Linked DNA regions of Homo sapiens: region 1 is linked to region 2. The links come from fine-mapping of genetic effects on gene expression. Tissue or cell type: whole blood. Region 2 holds a variant in brackets; the other region holds the start of a gene. All regions are shown on one strand. Distances are between the middles of the regions.

What was found. PIP is the estimated chance that this variant, and not a neighbour inherited with it, causes the effect.
Region 1: it holds the start of MPRIP, and the variant in region 2 is fine-mapped to the expression of MPRIP in whole blood (INTERVAL, PIP 0.98).

What each region holds. Positions count from the first base shown.
Region 1 is chr17:17,038,126-17,046,227 of GRCh38, reverse strand. It overlaps MPRIP (myosin phosphatase Rho interacting protein), which reads right to left and starts at 3,771. Exons shown (of 24, transcript NM_001364716.4): 1 at 3,257-3,771. The coding sequence starts at 3,379. LOC124903938 (a long non-coding RNA gene) reads left to right here and starts at 3,903. Exons shown (of 3, transcript XR_007065644.1): 1 at 3,903-3,957; 2 at 4,320-4,447; 3 at 6,471-6,885. RefSeq lists silencers at 1,779-2,073, 3,747-4,206 and an enhancer at 1,885-3,084.
Region 2 is chr17:17,150,110-17,158,211 of GRCh38, reverse strand. It overlaps MPRIP (myosin phosphatase Rho interacting protein), which reads right to left. Exons shown (of 24, transcript NM_001364716.4): 12 at 7,979-8,068; 13 at 3,797-3,906. Among named protein-coding and RNA genes, the nearest start is that of PLD6, 52 kb to the left of the region's middle. RefSeq lists an enhancer at 7,792-7,871. The variant C/T (reference allele first, on the strand shown) is at 3,103.

The DNA of each region.
Region 1 (8,102 bases), 110 kb after region 2:
CATCTTTATATGCAACACCATGAAAAGAACGTAAAGATATGCTGATAAGCAGAAAACAAAAAATATGTCGCAGAGCAAATACATGCACACAGTTCAGGATAAAAAGGTTTAACTGTATATTTGAGCTGGGCACAGTGACTCACGCCTGTAATCCCGGCACTTTGGGAGGCCGAGGCAGGCGGATCACGAGGTCAGGAGATCAAGACCATCCTGGCTAACACAGTGAAACCTCGTCTCTACTAAAAATACAAAAAATTAGCCAGGCATGGTGGCGGGTGCCTGTAGTCCCAGCTACTCGGGAGGCTGAGGCAGAAGAATGGCATGAACCTGGGAGGCGTAGCTTGCAGTGAGCTCAGATCGCGCCACTGCACACCAGCCTGGGCAACAGAGCGAGACTCCGCCTCAAAAAAAAAAAAAAAACTGTATATTTGGGTCCGTATGTCGCTGAGAAATGCACAGGAAAACTGGAGGATAAATGACACTCTGTGAACAGGGGCCTGGAACAAGTAATAAAGGACGGTCACTTATCACTTATCCCAGATTACTCCAAATTTCCGTGAGGAGGAAAAGGCAAAGAACTCCACTGCTCCAAGCCAGCATTCTCAAGGCACCTCCTGCAACATAACTATCCCTGACATTATTGTCCTCATCATGTGCTCATGGTGTGGCCACTGTAGACCCTGAACAGGAGTAGGGGAACTAACATTGGCTTCAGAATCCTGGCTCCATCCCTGAACTGGGCAAGTCACTTCCCTTCTCTGGGTTTCAATCTTCTCACCGGTAAGAGGAAGTGGTTACATTAGCTGATCTCCAAGTCCCTTCCAGGTCTGATGCCATAATACAGTCCCTGCAAGAGGTTTCTGTGCCTCTCTAGGGGAAAAACAAACAAACAAAACCCACAGCTGAGGAAATAAACCTCAAACCAAAAGGCTCAGAGAAATGTCTGCTCCTGGGAAGATGACATCTCCAGAGCAAAAGCCGGCCAAGGCTGCCCACCACCTCCCTGGGCCCAGTATCCTCTCCTCTTAAGGAGGGAGTGGCCTCGATGGTGGCTGATGTATCTTCCAGCTTTGACGGTCTAAAATAAGCTCCAGGCTGGGAGGGGCAGCAGGAAGCAGGGGCTTGGGGGAGACTGATGGGAACCGATTGGTTGAGGTTTTCTAATGGAGCCATAAGGATGAGAGTGAGAGGGAGGGCCGGATGCAGAGAGCAGCAGAGAAGGCTGTTGGCAACAGCCCTGAGTCTCCCTCCTCTCTTTTCAAGAGCAGTTTCTTCCTGAAAGATCCCAGGAGGTAGAATGCTGGGCTAACCTCTCCCAGCACAAATAACCCCACTCATTATTTCAGAAACTACCATTCCAGTTGTGCCCTGAAGGTCTCAGGCCTGTTTCAAAACCCACAATTCAACTTTGAATACAGTGAGAGTACAGTATTTTAAGTTTGCCTCTCCCCGTGAATCCAATTAATAATCAACAGATTAAAAAAAATCTTAGCAGATTGGACTCAAACATGCAGATTCCATCCTAGTTTATCTAAGCTTAAGAATTCGAAAACAGCCCCTATGAGGTGTAAATTTACCAATTTTGACAGTTGCTTAGAATAACCAGGAAACTTACAAACCTCTCTCAGAACAACCCTTGCCCAGAAACTTCTTAAAGTGGCAGGTTTTTTTGGTTTGTTAAATTGTAAGAGAAAAAAGTTTCATAAAATATCATTTCTTGCTTTTCACAAATGCTCAGTGAAGGAGGTAAGCCAGGGACCAGGATTCCCAATTTACAGATAAGGAAATTAAAAGATACAGAAGTAAAGGGATTTGTTCAAGGTCACACAGCTGGAAGTGACAGCCAAGACCTGAAGCAAAGTCTCCTAACAACTCCTCATCGCATAAACTGTTTCATCCAAAAAAGCATCCAGATGAGAAGAAGGAATCAAGTTCTCCTTTACACTCCAAAACACCCTCCGAGGTAAATGAGTTCTATCCGTCCCAAGCTGACCGTCCTTAAAACCCTTGGTATCTTAACCATCTATGACTTTGCAGCCTTGAGTGTTTCGTTAAGCTTTTGGGGTTTAGATGAAAGGAATCTTTTCCTGGCAGTTGGAAACCTGACCTCAGAGAAAGGCCCCGTGCCCCAGGCCGTAACCCCTGCCCCACCACCCTACTCCAGTCGGCCATGTAAACAAGTCAAACCCTGGGTGCACTGAAGTGGCATTAAAAACAACCAGGCCCGTTCACTCGTTTTCAGTCTAAGGGGTTCTTCTGCGACAGGAGTGGCTACAACTAGGTCACACTGGACTGGAATGTGAAGGGACTTCCCCTGGCTTCATTCAGGAGGCTGAGAGAAAGCTCTGAAGAGGATGGAGATGATGGCCGTGGGGAGGGTACCGAGGCACATCCCAAGGAGGTGCACACAAGGCTCGGAATCCTGGAACACTAGGAGTTCAAACAGCAATCACTGCAGGGGTTCCCAAGGGCCATGGGGGCTGCAGCCAAGCCTCTTGGAGCCTTTCATCAATACAAATTCCCCATCTCCCCAGTCACTCCAGGGCGGGGGCCCCAGAACTCTGTGTTTAATGGCTATGACTCTAATGCACGTTTGGGAGTCATAACTAGTTCAAAGCCCTGTTTGACAGTTAAGGCTGGGAGACAGAAATCAACTTTCCCGAGGACCCACAGGTCTCCTCACCCCTCGGCCAGTGACCAGGGAACTGGTCCCAGCTCCCCGCTAAACTACGGCCTGCCAAACTAAGTTCAAGAACAAGACCCTCCTCGCCAGATTTGGACACCCCTTCACCTCTCTCCAGTGCTTGACAGTGACGATGATTCAGAATCGGGGCAGGCTGCGTCCCACTAGACGGAAGCCCACAGTCCTCCCCAACAATCCGACCCCTGGGCCACTCTGGCTGGACAAATCCAAGTCCAGTCCCAAGCCAGAATCTCAGGGGGGTCCCGTCAAGCGGCATGCAATCCCTAAGCGCTTTGTTCCTACTAAGCGAAACCAGGCACTTTTGAGTCACCCAAAAAGCATGAATCACACAGCCGGGCAATGGGAACGGGAAAGGATGTTATTTTTCGGCATACTCGAGGATTTTCCCTTTGTCCCAGCTCTGTCAATGCACTTCCCGTCCCCGTCCCCATGCCCCAGGACTCGCGCATTTCCCTGCTCCATTTTTATTTTCCCTGCAGCCCTTGGCGGCGCCCCGGCCGCCGACCCGCGGCTCCCAGAACGGAGGTGTCCGGGCCGGCCCCAGTCGCTCACCTGCGTCAGGTCCTCGTCGTTGAGCAGATGCGACTCGCGGGGCTTGAAGCAGTTCTGACACTTGCTCTTGTTGAAGATGTTGGCCTGGAATTTCCTGCACGGGTTCTCCTTGGCTGCCGACATGGTCGGCGCGGCGGCGACGGCGGCGGCGGCGGCGGCGCAGGCCTGGCCGGCCTGGCGCTCCCGGCGGGCTAGGGGCTCAGCGCGGCCGCGCCGCATCCCTCGCCGGCCCCGCCGCAGGCCCGGCCCGGCCTCCTTCCCGGCGGGCGGTTCGCTGCACGCGCCGAGGCTCCTGAGCCGCCCGGGCCTCACAGCGCGCGCGACGCCCAGCTCCCGCCCGCACCGCCGCCGCCCGGCCGCCGCGGGCCCATGGACGCGGCCTCGGGCCCGCTGCTTCCCGCTGCGGCCCGCCTCTCAGGCTCCGGTCGCCGCCGTCCCGGCTCGTCCGCGCCGCCGCAGCTGCCCTCGGCGCCCCGCGGCCGCTGCAAATGGGACCGGAGCGCCTCACGCACTACGGGGGCGGGCGGGCGGGCGGGCGGGCGGGCGGCCGGGCGCGGGGAGGTGCCGGGGCGTACGGGGCGGGGCCGCGCCCGACGCGATCGGCAGCCCCACCGGCCAATGGGGTTGGCGCGCTCTCGCTAACAAAGGAACCTCTGGGCCAATGGCAGTCGGGGGCGGGACCGAGGGCCGCCGAGCGCAAGGTAAGTTGTGCAGGCCGGGAAGGTGGGGGCGCCGGCATGGGACGTTCAGGTTTGGTGGACTGGCGCCGAGGCCGGCCGGGCTGACAGCTGCAGGGCCCGGGCGGGGGATGCGGGGGAAGGCGGAGCCGACCTCAGGCTGCCTCTCTGCAACCCCCTCGCTCCCAGGCTCGCCTTCCCGCGCCCACGCTGTACACCCAACGGAGGCATCTTCCCCAAGCCCAGCTCGGAGAGGATTAGTTTAGCACCTACTGTGTACCAGGCCCCCTCGTAGGAGTCAGTTAGCGTCGGGAAGGGCTGGATACTCCAAGGGCTCGCTCATTAAAGGTTCGCAACCTCTCCTTTCTCATCCCCATTTTACATAGGAGGAGACTGAGGAGCAGAGAAGTAACAGCGGGTAGTATTTCAAGGGATGACTAAGAGAAGATGTCAGCGGACTTGAAGAGCTGTCAGCTCCATTAGGGGAGATGAGCGAAGGCTGACTCTCTGCCAGGTGCTGAGCTAGGCATTCTTTCCCCCATGATGTGCTTGAGGAAATGAAGGGTCAGACACCTGGAGTAATTTGTGTAGGATCACTCTGCTAGGAAGGGGCCGAGCTGTCACTCCCGTCCTCCATTGTCCAGCCTCCTGGCCAAAAGACAACCTGGAAAAGGCTGTCAAAGGCTCAGGCAGAAGGTTGCAGGAGCCCAGAGAGGGGAGAAATGCGCTCTTTAGAAAAATTCGGGTGGCTTCAAGGAGGAGGGGAAGTTTAAGTGGACAGTGAGAGGGTTGAGTGTGGCTGGAAGTGGAGATAGGGGAAGAAGGAGCAAGAGGGATTGGAAGAGGGCTCTATCACCCAGGCCTTGTATTCCAAGCCCAGGCGTGCACATGTCATCCCACTGGCAGCTGGGAGTCATGGTGAGTCTTTAAACAGGGGGGTGAGCTAACCCAGCCTTCACGGAGGAGGTGACATTGGAGCATGTGGTAGTGGCAGCCACAGCAGCTGTCGCTCAGGGAATGGAGGAGGTTTTAGGAGGAGAAGTAGCAAATGCTTCCAGAGCTGTGTACTTTTCCACGGATCATCTGGTAAATATCCCAGGGAGGTGGATTTCAACTTAGTGTAAGAAAATGCTTTTCCTCAAAAGGGAGCTGTGGGAAGGCAGATCAAAGTCCTTTGGCAGCCTAAGGGGGAAAGCCCAGCTCCACCAGGCAGGAGCTCTGTGGCCTCGGGCAAGTCCCTTAACCTGCCTGGTGCCTCAGTGACCTCATGTACAAAATTGGCATTAATTAATTAATGTGAACATTAAATGATATAATGCTTGTTAAGTAGCATAATGTTAATTGGTGAATCTAGGCAAAAGGTGTTTATTGTACTATTCTTTTTTTTTTTTTTTTTTTTTTTTTTTTTTGAGACGGAGTCTCGCTCTGTCGCCCAGGCTGGAGTGCAGTGGCGGGATCTCGGCTCACTGCAAGCTCCGCCTCCCGGGTTCACACCATTCTCCTGCCTCAGCCTCCCGAGTAGCTGGGACTACAGGCGCCCGCCACTACGCCCGGCTAATTTTTTGTATTTTTAGTAGAGACGGGGTTTCACCGTTTTAGCCGGGATGGTCTCGATCTCCTGACCTCGTGATCCGCCCGCCTCGGCCTCCCAAAGTGCTGGGATTACAGGCGTGAGCCACCGCGCCCGGCCTTATTGTACTATTCTTGCAACTTTTCTGTTGCTTTAAATTTTTGCAAAATAAAAAAGGGACGGAAGACTGACAATTCTGCCCTGCAGAGAATACTCAGAAACTGATAGAAGAGGTGGCCACTGGGGAGGGGAGCTGGGTGGTTGAGAGGTGACCTACTTTTAATTTTCATTGCAATCCCTTTTGTTTCTGCTGAATTTAGTATTGTCTGCATGTACAACTTGTTTAAAAATATATATATACATACATATATATATATATATATATATATATTTTCTTTCTTGATGTCCTGCCCATTCCTCAAGGCCACCTCCCTTAAAGTGCTCAGCATGTTCTGCTCAGGTCAGTAGGCACATCCAGCACCTGCACTGGACTGGAGGGGTCCACAGTAGGGGCGCAAAGAAGAGTTTCATTCAGCAACTCAGAGGCAGCCTGCCCGGCAGGAGCCCACACTCAAGCAAGTGGAGACAAACAGAAACAGGAGACAGAGAAGTTCAATCCGGGGTGTTGTGGGGGCCCACACAGGGGCACCCAGCCCCGTAGGCAGCTTCAGGGAAGGCTCCTGGAGGAGGCAATGCCTAGGCCGAGTCTGGAGCTGAGTAAGACCCAGCCAGAGAAGGTGAAGGGAAAGACACGTCAAACTGGGGCACCAATTATAGAGTCTCAGGCCTTGAAACCAAAGGGTGTGTTCATGAACAGAAGCAGCTTTCTATCACTGGGTAGTTCAGAGAGGCAGGAGTGACCAGCATTGAGAGGCACTGGGAGGAGTAGTGGATGGTGCAAGCCTAGCCTCTTCAGGGAGACAGGTATGGTTTTTGTTGTTAATACTATTTCATCTCCATTTTATAGAAGACACACACGAGGCTCAGGACATATCAGGAACTTGCCTGTGGTCACAATTATAGATCCTACAAGTGAAGATTTGAGCCCACACAGGCCAGCACCGGAGCTGCCTGGGCCAGGGGCAGTCATCAATTTTGAATTTTTTTCGGCTGAGCACTTAGGTAAGGGCTGCTGATCTGGAGAATGAATCAGGGGCAAGGACTGAGAGAGCTGCAGAGGAGAGAGGGTAGCAGCCTGACTAGGATAGGGTCAGTGGGAGGCAAGGGAATGAATTTGGAAAATGTTTAGGAGGTAGAATCAATTAGTTGCGCTCCTCTCCAAAACCCTCACGGTAGAGTGGGGTCTTGGTTGCTACTCCATTTCCCCTGTCTAGTTCAGTGCCTGGCATAGAGCAGGGGCTCAAAAACACCCCATGGGGGTGCAGTGGCTCACACCTGTAGTCCCAGCACTTTGGGAGGCCGAGGCGGGCGGATCATGAGATCAGGAGTTCGAGACCATCCTGGCTAACACAGTGAAACCCTGTCTCTACTAAATATACAAAAAATTAGCCAGGCTTGGTGGCAGGCGCCTGTAGTCCCAGCTACTAGGGAGGCTGAGGCAGGATAATGGCATGAACCCGGGAGGCGGAGCTTGCAGTGAGCCGAGATCGTGCCACTGCACTCCAGCCTGGGCGACAGAGTGAGACTCTGTCTCAAAAAACAAAACAAACAAGAAAAACACCCCATGGGTGAATGGATGAAAAGTCATCGTTCCACCTTGTATTGTAATATCTCCTCCACCAGATTATGAAATCCATACCGACACAGTCTGTGTCTCATAACCTTGGCTTCCCTTTCCAGGGGCCTAGAACAGCACTTTGCATGAAGTTCAATACTCAGTGTAAACATGTAAAGATTCACTGGGCTGTATGCTTTTTTCACTGCATTGTGTACACCTCAATGTATATTGTTTATCTCAAAAAAGCAAATAAGCAAGCAAGCAAGAAAAGGCCGCTCAGGTGAGCCCCAAATGCAGGTAAGTCTTGATTTGTGGCTCTGACTGCCATCCTGGGAAGTTTTCCCTGTGTCCTGTTAGGGAGCAGAATTTACACACAGATACCCAGAGGTAACCACTATTTTGATCTCCATCACCATAGATGAGTGGAATCCGCTGCGAGCTATGCCTGGCTCTTCTCATTCAACAGTATGCCTGTGAAATTCAATCCACACGGCTACTGTATATATCAGTACTTCATTCTTTTTCATTGCTGCCTGGTAGTCCCTTGTGTGGAAATACTACAATTTATCTGTCCATGTTCCCGTGGATAGACATTCAGGATGTTTCCAGTTTGGGGCCATTATGAATAATGCTACGAGTATCTTCGTGCTTGTCTTTGGTGGACATAAGCACTTCTTTCTTTTTTTTTTTTTTTTTTGTTTGAGATGGAGTCTCGCTCTTTCGCCCAGGCTGGAGTGCAGTGGCACGATCTTGGCTCACTGCAAGCTCCGCCTCCTGGGTTCAGGCCATTCTCCTGCCTCAGCCTTCTGAGTAGCTGGGACTACAGGCACTCGCCATCACGCCCGGCTAATTTTTTTTGTATTTTTTTAGTAGAGACGGGGTTTCACTGTGTGAGGATGGTCTCGATCTCCTGACCTCGTG
Region 2 (8,102 bases):
GGGAGGGGAAGGGGAAAGGAAGGGAAAAGAGCCTCAGAAAGCTGAGGTTTCCCACATAATGACACTGGGGGGGTCCCTTGACTGAAGAGGCTGTGAGGGGCTCACTGTGGTGGTCCCGTTGCCAGGGTATGGAGCCAGGGGAGTCCCAGGACTCCCACAGCCTCAGAGGCAGGACGGGCCAGCCCTGCCTTGCTCAGGGCCAAGAACTACATTAGGCTGCACCTGGGCACAGCCACCGTACCTGCCAGGTGAGGCCTGGGCCCTGTGCACCCCTGGACTGGACAGTGGTGACAGAATGAGGGAAAACTAGCACTTTCTAGAAGGGCTTACCTTTTAATAAGCAGGTAACGTGATCAGATCTATGTTTTGTTTTTTTTTTTTTTGAGATGGAGTTTCACTCTTGTTACCCAGGCTGGAGTGCAATGGCGCGATCTCGGCTCACCACAACCTCTGCCTGCTGGGTTCAAGCGATTCTCCTGCCTCAGCCTCCCAAGTAGCTGGGATTACCGGCATGCGCTACCATGCCTGGCTAATTTTGTATTTTTAGTAGAAACGGGGTTTCTCCATGTTGGCCAGGCTGGTCTCAAACTCCTGACCTCAGGTGATCCGCCTGCCTCCCAAAGTGCTGGGATTACAGGCGTGAGCTACTGTGCCCAGCCTGAATCTATGTTTTAAAAGCCCAATCCAGCTGCTGGCATGACAGATGGATCAGTATGAAAGACTGGGACCTCCTAAGGGTGAGGGAAACAGGAGGCCCAGGTGGCCACGAGTTCACACCATGCAGTAGCCAGAGGCTTGGAGAGGAAGGCAGAAGGGGAGAAGGACACTGGGTTACCTGCCACCTTGAGCAGGCAAGCGGCAGCCAGCAACGGGACATGAGCTGCGCAGGTCGTGCTCATGGTGCTGCTACCTGCCCTGCAGTAAGTGGAGTGAAGCCAGGTCTGCCTGAGGAATCCATGTCTAGTCCCCATCTGCTAGAAGCAGAGATTCCTGGGGAGGCCTCGTCTGCAGTAGGGCAGGGACAGGGACATTGCTGATGGCAATTTGTCAAGGAGGCTGGGAGTGTTTGAGGCAAAGGTTTGTAGACTCTAGAGATAGGCCCCACAGACTGCCAGCTGGTCCGAGGCTGACTGAGGGGCCCCTAATCTCACCCAGGCCCTCAGAAGGCAGTTGCAAGCCCACCTGAGGACAGTGAGGGCCCAAGGAGGAGCTCCAGGGAGCACATGTGTTTCAATTAGGGCCAAAAGGAAAGGAGTCTTTAGAGAGAGAACCAAGGAAAAGAGGAAATGGTTGCCGTCACCACCTGGAGCAAGGGTCACCTGTCCAGGCAGCAATCGAGTGAGAGGCAAAGTGCTTCACAGCAACAGGATCTGCAGGTGTCCACTGTAAGAGCACGCTAACATCTGGATGAAAACGACACAGGGCAGATCTTGTGACGTCACTGAACTAAGAGCTCCTGGCCATGGAGAGTGTCAGGATGACACATAGGGCAGGGCATGCATGGAGGCCCCCAGCCTGGCCCTGACAGCCGCCAAAGTCACAGCCACACCAGAACCGGCCGCACTCCCTAGGAGAAACCTCCCCACAAGGCTCCTCTAGTGCCAAAGGCGGGAAGCACCCTGCAACTTCCCCACCCCAGGACTTCAAGATGGCGATGAGAGCAGGACGAGGACAGCAGCTTCTGAGACTGCAGTTTGTTTTCATGCCTCCTTGAGATTTTGCCTGGCAGCACTAAAAAACTCACATTTTTCCTCAAATAATAAAAGCCTACACAGAGGAAGAATAAATGCTGAAAACAAACTGGTGGAGGGTGAGCACTCTACCAGACTATGCAGATATGCTAGGTTATGAAGTAATTCTTAGTCAGGAGGCCAACTGCCAGGTCAACTTTCATGTGAGAGCCAAACCCTTGTCTCCTCATTCATTCCCCTGGGCCCATAGCCCCTGCACGCAGGGAAGCAGGCACTCAAGCGTGGAGGCGCCTCTCCTGAGCTGTGTGCAGGCACAGGCATGTGCACAGGTGCATTCCTGACATCTGCCCTGGGACATCCCAAAGCTGACTTCTTCCAGACAGGATTGCCAATCTACAGCACCGAGCCCAGGCCTGGCTGGGAAGAGGGGCAGGAGAGGACCTCAGGCCAGCTACCCATATGCACTGCCCACCACTCCCCATCCTGGACCCCCGTGATAAGCTCTGTCTGCTGCCAATAGCTTGGGCAAAGAAGCTGAGGCCTTTCTCACTTTGCTCTGGTGGCTTCCTAAAGGTGCTTGGAAAAGAGCACTTAGCTTGTCAAGCTTGGGTGTCTGCTCCTGATGGGAGAGCCATGGAAGCAGTAGCTGAGGCCACCACAGGATGTGGCCCCTGGAGGGTGGGAGAGCTTGCTGCAGCTCTGGGTGCCTCCTGCTGGCTGTGCACAAAGAGGACTTGTCACTAGACAACAAGCCAGCTCTCTGCATAGGATCCTGAGAGACAGAGGGCAACCTGTCCCGGTCACGGCCTCTTGGCCTTACTAGACAGTGTTTGTTTAATAAATGAAGTCATGAACAAATGACAGACACAGAAAAGAGGACTATAAAGAAATCAATTTAGGAGTTCTTTCCTTCTTATGTAAAGAGGTGTGGAGTCCGCAGGAAGAAGGCAAAGGTTTGGATACAGAATGTGCCTTTAGGCCGGCTGTGGTGGCTCATGCCTGCAATTTCAGCACTTTGGGAGGCCAAGGCGAGTGGATCACCTGAGGTCACGAGTTCAAGACCAGCCTGGCCAACAAGGTGAAATCCCGTCTCTACTAAAAATACAAAAATTAGCCGGGTGTGGTGGGTAATCCCAGCTACTTGGGAGGCTGAGGCAGGAGAACTGCTTGAACCCACGAGGTGGAGGTTGCAGCGAGCCGAGATCACGTTATTGCACTCTAGCCTAGGCAACAGAACAAGACTCCATCTCAAAAAAAAAAAAAAGAACACGCTTTTAGGTCAAAGCTTCCATGGACAGCCCCCGCTGTGACATTGCCACACCCAAGCAGCCTAACCCACAGCACAAGAAACACATTCGAGATGTAATCTACATCACATGACCTGAGAAATGGCACCAGAGGTGCTCAGATG[C/T]GTGGAGGCTCTGAAGGTGGGGACAGCAGAGTTCTGGCCATCAAAGGACCAGCCCCCACACTGGAATCTTCTCTGCTTTTTTTGTTTTGTTTTGTTTTAGATATGTCTGAGTCTTCTGATTCTCCATCTTTTAAAATGAGAACTAGGTCTTTAACCTTCAGGGCAGGAGGAAAAAAGCCCAAAGCAAAATCTGAGACACATGAACCACAGAATGCAAAAACAGGAGAGGGTTTTTCAAATTGGCTGCACAGAAATCAAACAGACGTAGGAGTGAGGTGAAAAGAAGGCCAAGACAAAGAAGCACTGGGTGGCCTATGGATGCCGCACATGGGGCCACCCTTAGAGCAGCAGAGCCCAAGGCCTGAGAGCACCGACTGCGGGGCTCAGGCTGGTCTGGCCAAGTGCCTGCTGACACAGATGGAAGATTCTCCACCAAAGCCCAGTTCTAATGACCAGCACACATGCTACCTGCAAGATGAAACGCTTGGGCTTACAAGAGAAAAGAACCAGAAATGTTTGTTCTGATTACTTGGGACAGGAACCTGAGCAACAGAAGGACACAGGAAGGAAGGAGCAGCAGACTGGGATGCACTGAGCTCAGGTCTCAGACTTCAGACCTGAGTCTGACACTGCCCTGGCGGGAGTGGCACCCACAAGAGGCACAAAGGGCTCCCTGGTGTCTTCACCATCCTACCTGGTCACATCCGGGGCAGTGGTCGGGTGCACGTGCTTCATGATGGTCTGGATCCAGTTCCGCCGAATCCCAGATGTCATGGCCGACAGGGTAAACTCGCCCTCCTTTGTCTACAGAGAAAAGATGAGGCACCATCAGTGACTGTCCCCTAGGGTGCCTGCTGCCCTCCATCTCCAAAGAAGCTCCCTGCACTGGGTAAAGTCCCACAGGGAGAAAGGCTGTGACTGGGTGACCCTTCTAGGAGTGCCACATGTGCCCACTACTGGGACATGAGGGAGCTGGAGAGCAGGAGACGTCAAAGCTGTGGGAGGGACGTGTATTTGTGGCAATGGTAAATCCGGTATCTTCTCTCAGTAACAAGCTCACAGTTACTGAGCACCCACTACGCACCAGCAGCCTGTCCACTCAGACAGAGGAGGATGCTGCACCCCTCTTTAAGGAGTTCCCAGCCTCGGGGGAAGGGCAGAATCAGCATGTGCTGAGCAGTGGTGGAGGTGGGGAATCCGGAAGGGCGTGTGTGTTGGGCGTGGGGAGTGGCACCTGCAGTCTGCACTCACACAGGCACATGGCATGATGGGCCCAGGGAGTGGTTAAGAACAAGGGGTATCAGGGTCTTGTTGGTGGCACTGAGAAAAGGCAGGGAGACCTGCTGGGTGGTTACTGCAGCTGTCCAAGTGATGAGAATTAAGGTGATGGCAGGGGACAGGGCAGCTCAGAAGTAACAAAAGGGGTATGAACAGCGTCTGGCTGGTTGGGTTGGGGAGCACCTAGACAAGCCCTAGACTCCTGCTTGGATGAGGTGGAGTCTAGGGCTTGTCCTCGGTGCTTGTGCAAGGTAGCAGGGGAGGAGCCTGTTTTGGGCGAGGAACGGGGCAGCAGGTAGGACAAAGCAGCAAAGAGCACATGGCTCTGGGACATGACCACTGCGCCCCTGAGCAGACCTGCCTGGGTACCAGGCAGGGGAGGGCCAGTGGCCTGCATGGAGCTGGAGGCCTGCTTCTGCACCTACAGGCACCTGCCCAACAGAAGCGAGGGCTGCAGCCTTGAACCGAGAGCTGCTCACAAGCAGACTCAGCAGCCAGGTCAGTAGGGAAGCTGACGGCAGGATGCAATCATGAGGATGGTTTTCGGATGGGTGCTAGTGGCCTGGCCAGAAGCCAAAACAGGAGATCACGCACCGGCCTGACGTGCCACAAAGCACAGCTGGGAGGGACCTGACCTGCCCCTCCACATGCCCGATCAAGACACCACCACTGCCCAGCTCGGTCCTCCTTCATCAGTTCTCATATCCATGTGAGCTGAGTTGGGGGGGTACCACCTTCTCCTGGGTCCATCCTTCTCCACCCCCAGGTGTGGGCGTTGCTGGAGTTTGGCCTCAGCACTCCACATACAGCTGTTTTCTCCAGCTGAATTTTCTTTCCCAGCGGCTGCCTAATGTTCTCTGAGAGCCCATCATGCCTCAAATGGATCACAGCCGGAATTCCAGGGGATCCCCCTGCTTCTGTGAAGTCAGCTCTTCTGCTGGCTTCTCAGTGGGCGGGGCCTTCTTGCCAGGTCCTGGCCCTGCCCTCACCTCTTCCTCCCAGGTGCTGCTCCTTCCTTTCTTGCCCAGCTTTACCGTGCCAGCCTGGTTCCTTTCTAATGGACCTGCATGTCCCGCCAGACATGTATCATGAACGCACAACTGACTGGCATCTTCTAACACCCTTCAGTGCTCTCCACAAAGGCTGGACCAGCGCCAACCTGACTCTCCACCCAGCACTCTAGCCCCAGACTGGCTCTGTGCTCTCTGTGCCACCAGGTCTGGAGTCCAGTCTGGGACATGCTTTCACACTCATCCCTCCTGCTGAGCCTTGAGGGATCCTTCTCCAGGAAGCCTCCCCCAGGAAGCCTTCTCCACACTGGAAGCATCTCCTCATTCCTTAGAACTCTCAGTAGTTGGGGATCACCGAAAGTCATCAGGATAAGCCCTACCAGGGTGAAGTGAGGAGGGGTTGATCAGTGGGTGAGAGTGGCTGATGCCCTCATTTGTCACTAGGAGAGCGGGGTGAGTTCTCAGACTTCAGGTGTGCCCTGCCTGGAGAAAGCTGCTCATGAAGATGGGAGGTGGACGGCAGGAGAGGAGGCTCACCGGGCACTATGCCCGCCTACCCCTCCCACAGCGGATGAGGACAGAGGAGCCTTGAAACTTGGGCAGTGCAGGCCACTAAGAGCAGACAACTCACACCCGGCCCTGGTGCCAGGCTGTCAGTGTAGCCTCCAACTGTGACTCAGCTCCTCTCGCAGATGCCTGCACGCAGGAAGCCACAGCCAGCAGCCCAGTGGGCTGGCGGCCAGGATTTTCTTAGTAAATGAACACACTGGCCTTTGGGTCTATACTTCAGTCTCCTCTAAGTTGGGCCAAACTGAGTGAGCCCCAAATACTGGATCAACTCTCAACACAGCAATAAAATTGAGTTTCTGGGCCCCAAAATTTGAAGGTATGACCCTGCTACAGGTGAGCCCACCAGAGTCTAGCCTTGTGTGAGAACCAAGTCCCAGGGCCAGGGCCCAGCCCCATGGGGGCAGCTCTCTACTCATCACACTCTCCACCCATCTTAAAGCCCTTGCGAGTGACGAACTAACTTTACCCAAAGAGAGGCCTGGCCTCTGTCCTAGCTCCTGGGAGGTAACTTCCAAACCTTGGAATTTCCTGAATGACTAGAGTCTTTGTTACTCATGGTGGTACCCTGGGACCCCACCTAACACTTCATGCTGACAAGACAACTCAGGGTAGAGGCTGGCCTGGCCAGAAGCAGGAAATTAGAGGAAACCCATTAAATCAGAGGGTTGGGGTTTGGGCCATGTGAAAGTAGCCAACCATGGCGGGAAGGGCTTTAGGTGGAGTTCAACTATGAGGACAACAACTCCATCAACCACAGCAGCTACAGAGCCTCCTAAAACTCAACACCGGGGCTCAGGTGGGCTTCCGGGCAATGCTCTGCGCACTGCCCCACATCAGGGCTAAGAGGACACCGTGTCCCCAAGGATGCAGAAACTTTTGGCATCTGTGACTCCCCCAGTCCCAGATTCTACTCCACATGGCTCTCCCTTGGCTGGTTCTGACTTACATACTTTCTCTATAATAAAACTCATTGTAAAGACAGTACTTTCCTGAATCCTGTGAGTCATTCTAGTGAATTTTTGAAACTGAAGGTGGTTTTGGAAACCTCCGGACTCACAACTGGTGTCAGAAGTGGGGGCAGGACTGGGCACAGTGATTCATGCCTATAATCCCAGCACTTTGGGAAGCCAAGGCAAGTGGATCGCTGGAGCCCAGGGGTTCAAAACCCTCCTGGGCAACATGGTGAAACCCTGTCTCTCTAAATAATGATAATAATAATAATAATAATAATAATAATAATAAGCTGGGCATGGTGGCATGCACCTGTAGTCCCAGTTACTCTGGAGGCTGAGGTAGAAGGATCGTTAGAGTCTAGGATTTCGAGCCTGCAGTGAGCCATGATTGTGCCACTACACTCAAGCCTGGACAGAGAGTGAGACCCTGTCTTGGGGGAAAAAAAAAGAAATGGAGGCAGATGTGGCAGTCAGGAGGACTGTGCTCTTAACCTGGAGTCTGGCTGACTGCAGGCAGTCCTTGATCCACACAGTTTTGAAGAAACAGCCAATAAGAACCATTTTGTCCTACCAATAAGATTTTTTTTTTTTTTTTTTTTTTGAGAACAGTGCAATGCCTTGCTCATCTGAGTACCTCACAAGATTTTGGGAAAAAATAGCCTTGTAAGTAAATGAATGAACAAACACATGAATAAGTGAGTAAAAAGCGGATGTAAATAATTGACTAACACTTTCATTCTTATTCCCCATACCCCACATCCTTCCAATTGCCCCAACTCCAGCATTACAAAAAACAAAAGAAAAAAGGAACCTTCAGAAACAAAAAAGCTTTAAGCAGTCTTCAGAAAAAAGATACTAACGTCTAATGTACTGTTCACATCACAAATTGGGGAATAGGGTCAGGTGCCACAGGACAGAGGTGTCAAGGGTAGTGGGAAAGACTAAGTGCTGACCATACACGCTGCATCAGGCCTGTCCAGAAGTGCCCCCAGCCCAGACATTAGGCACTCTGACATGCATCCCTGCCTGTCAAGCCTGTGGCCCCACTTCCATCCCTGGACTCACATGTATCTGGAAGCCATAGTTTCTCTGAACTGGATACTCTGTGACATCGTAACATGCGGACAAGTCAATTTCTCCATCCAAGTCGGCTGCCTGCCGAGGGAAGTGAGAATGTCTTGAGATTTTT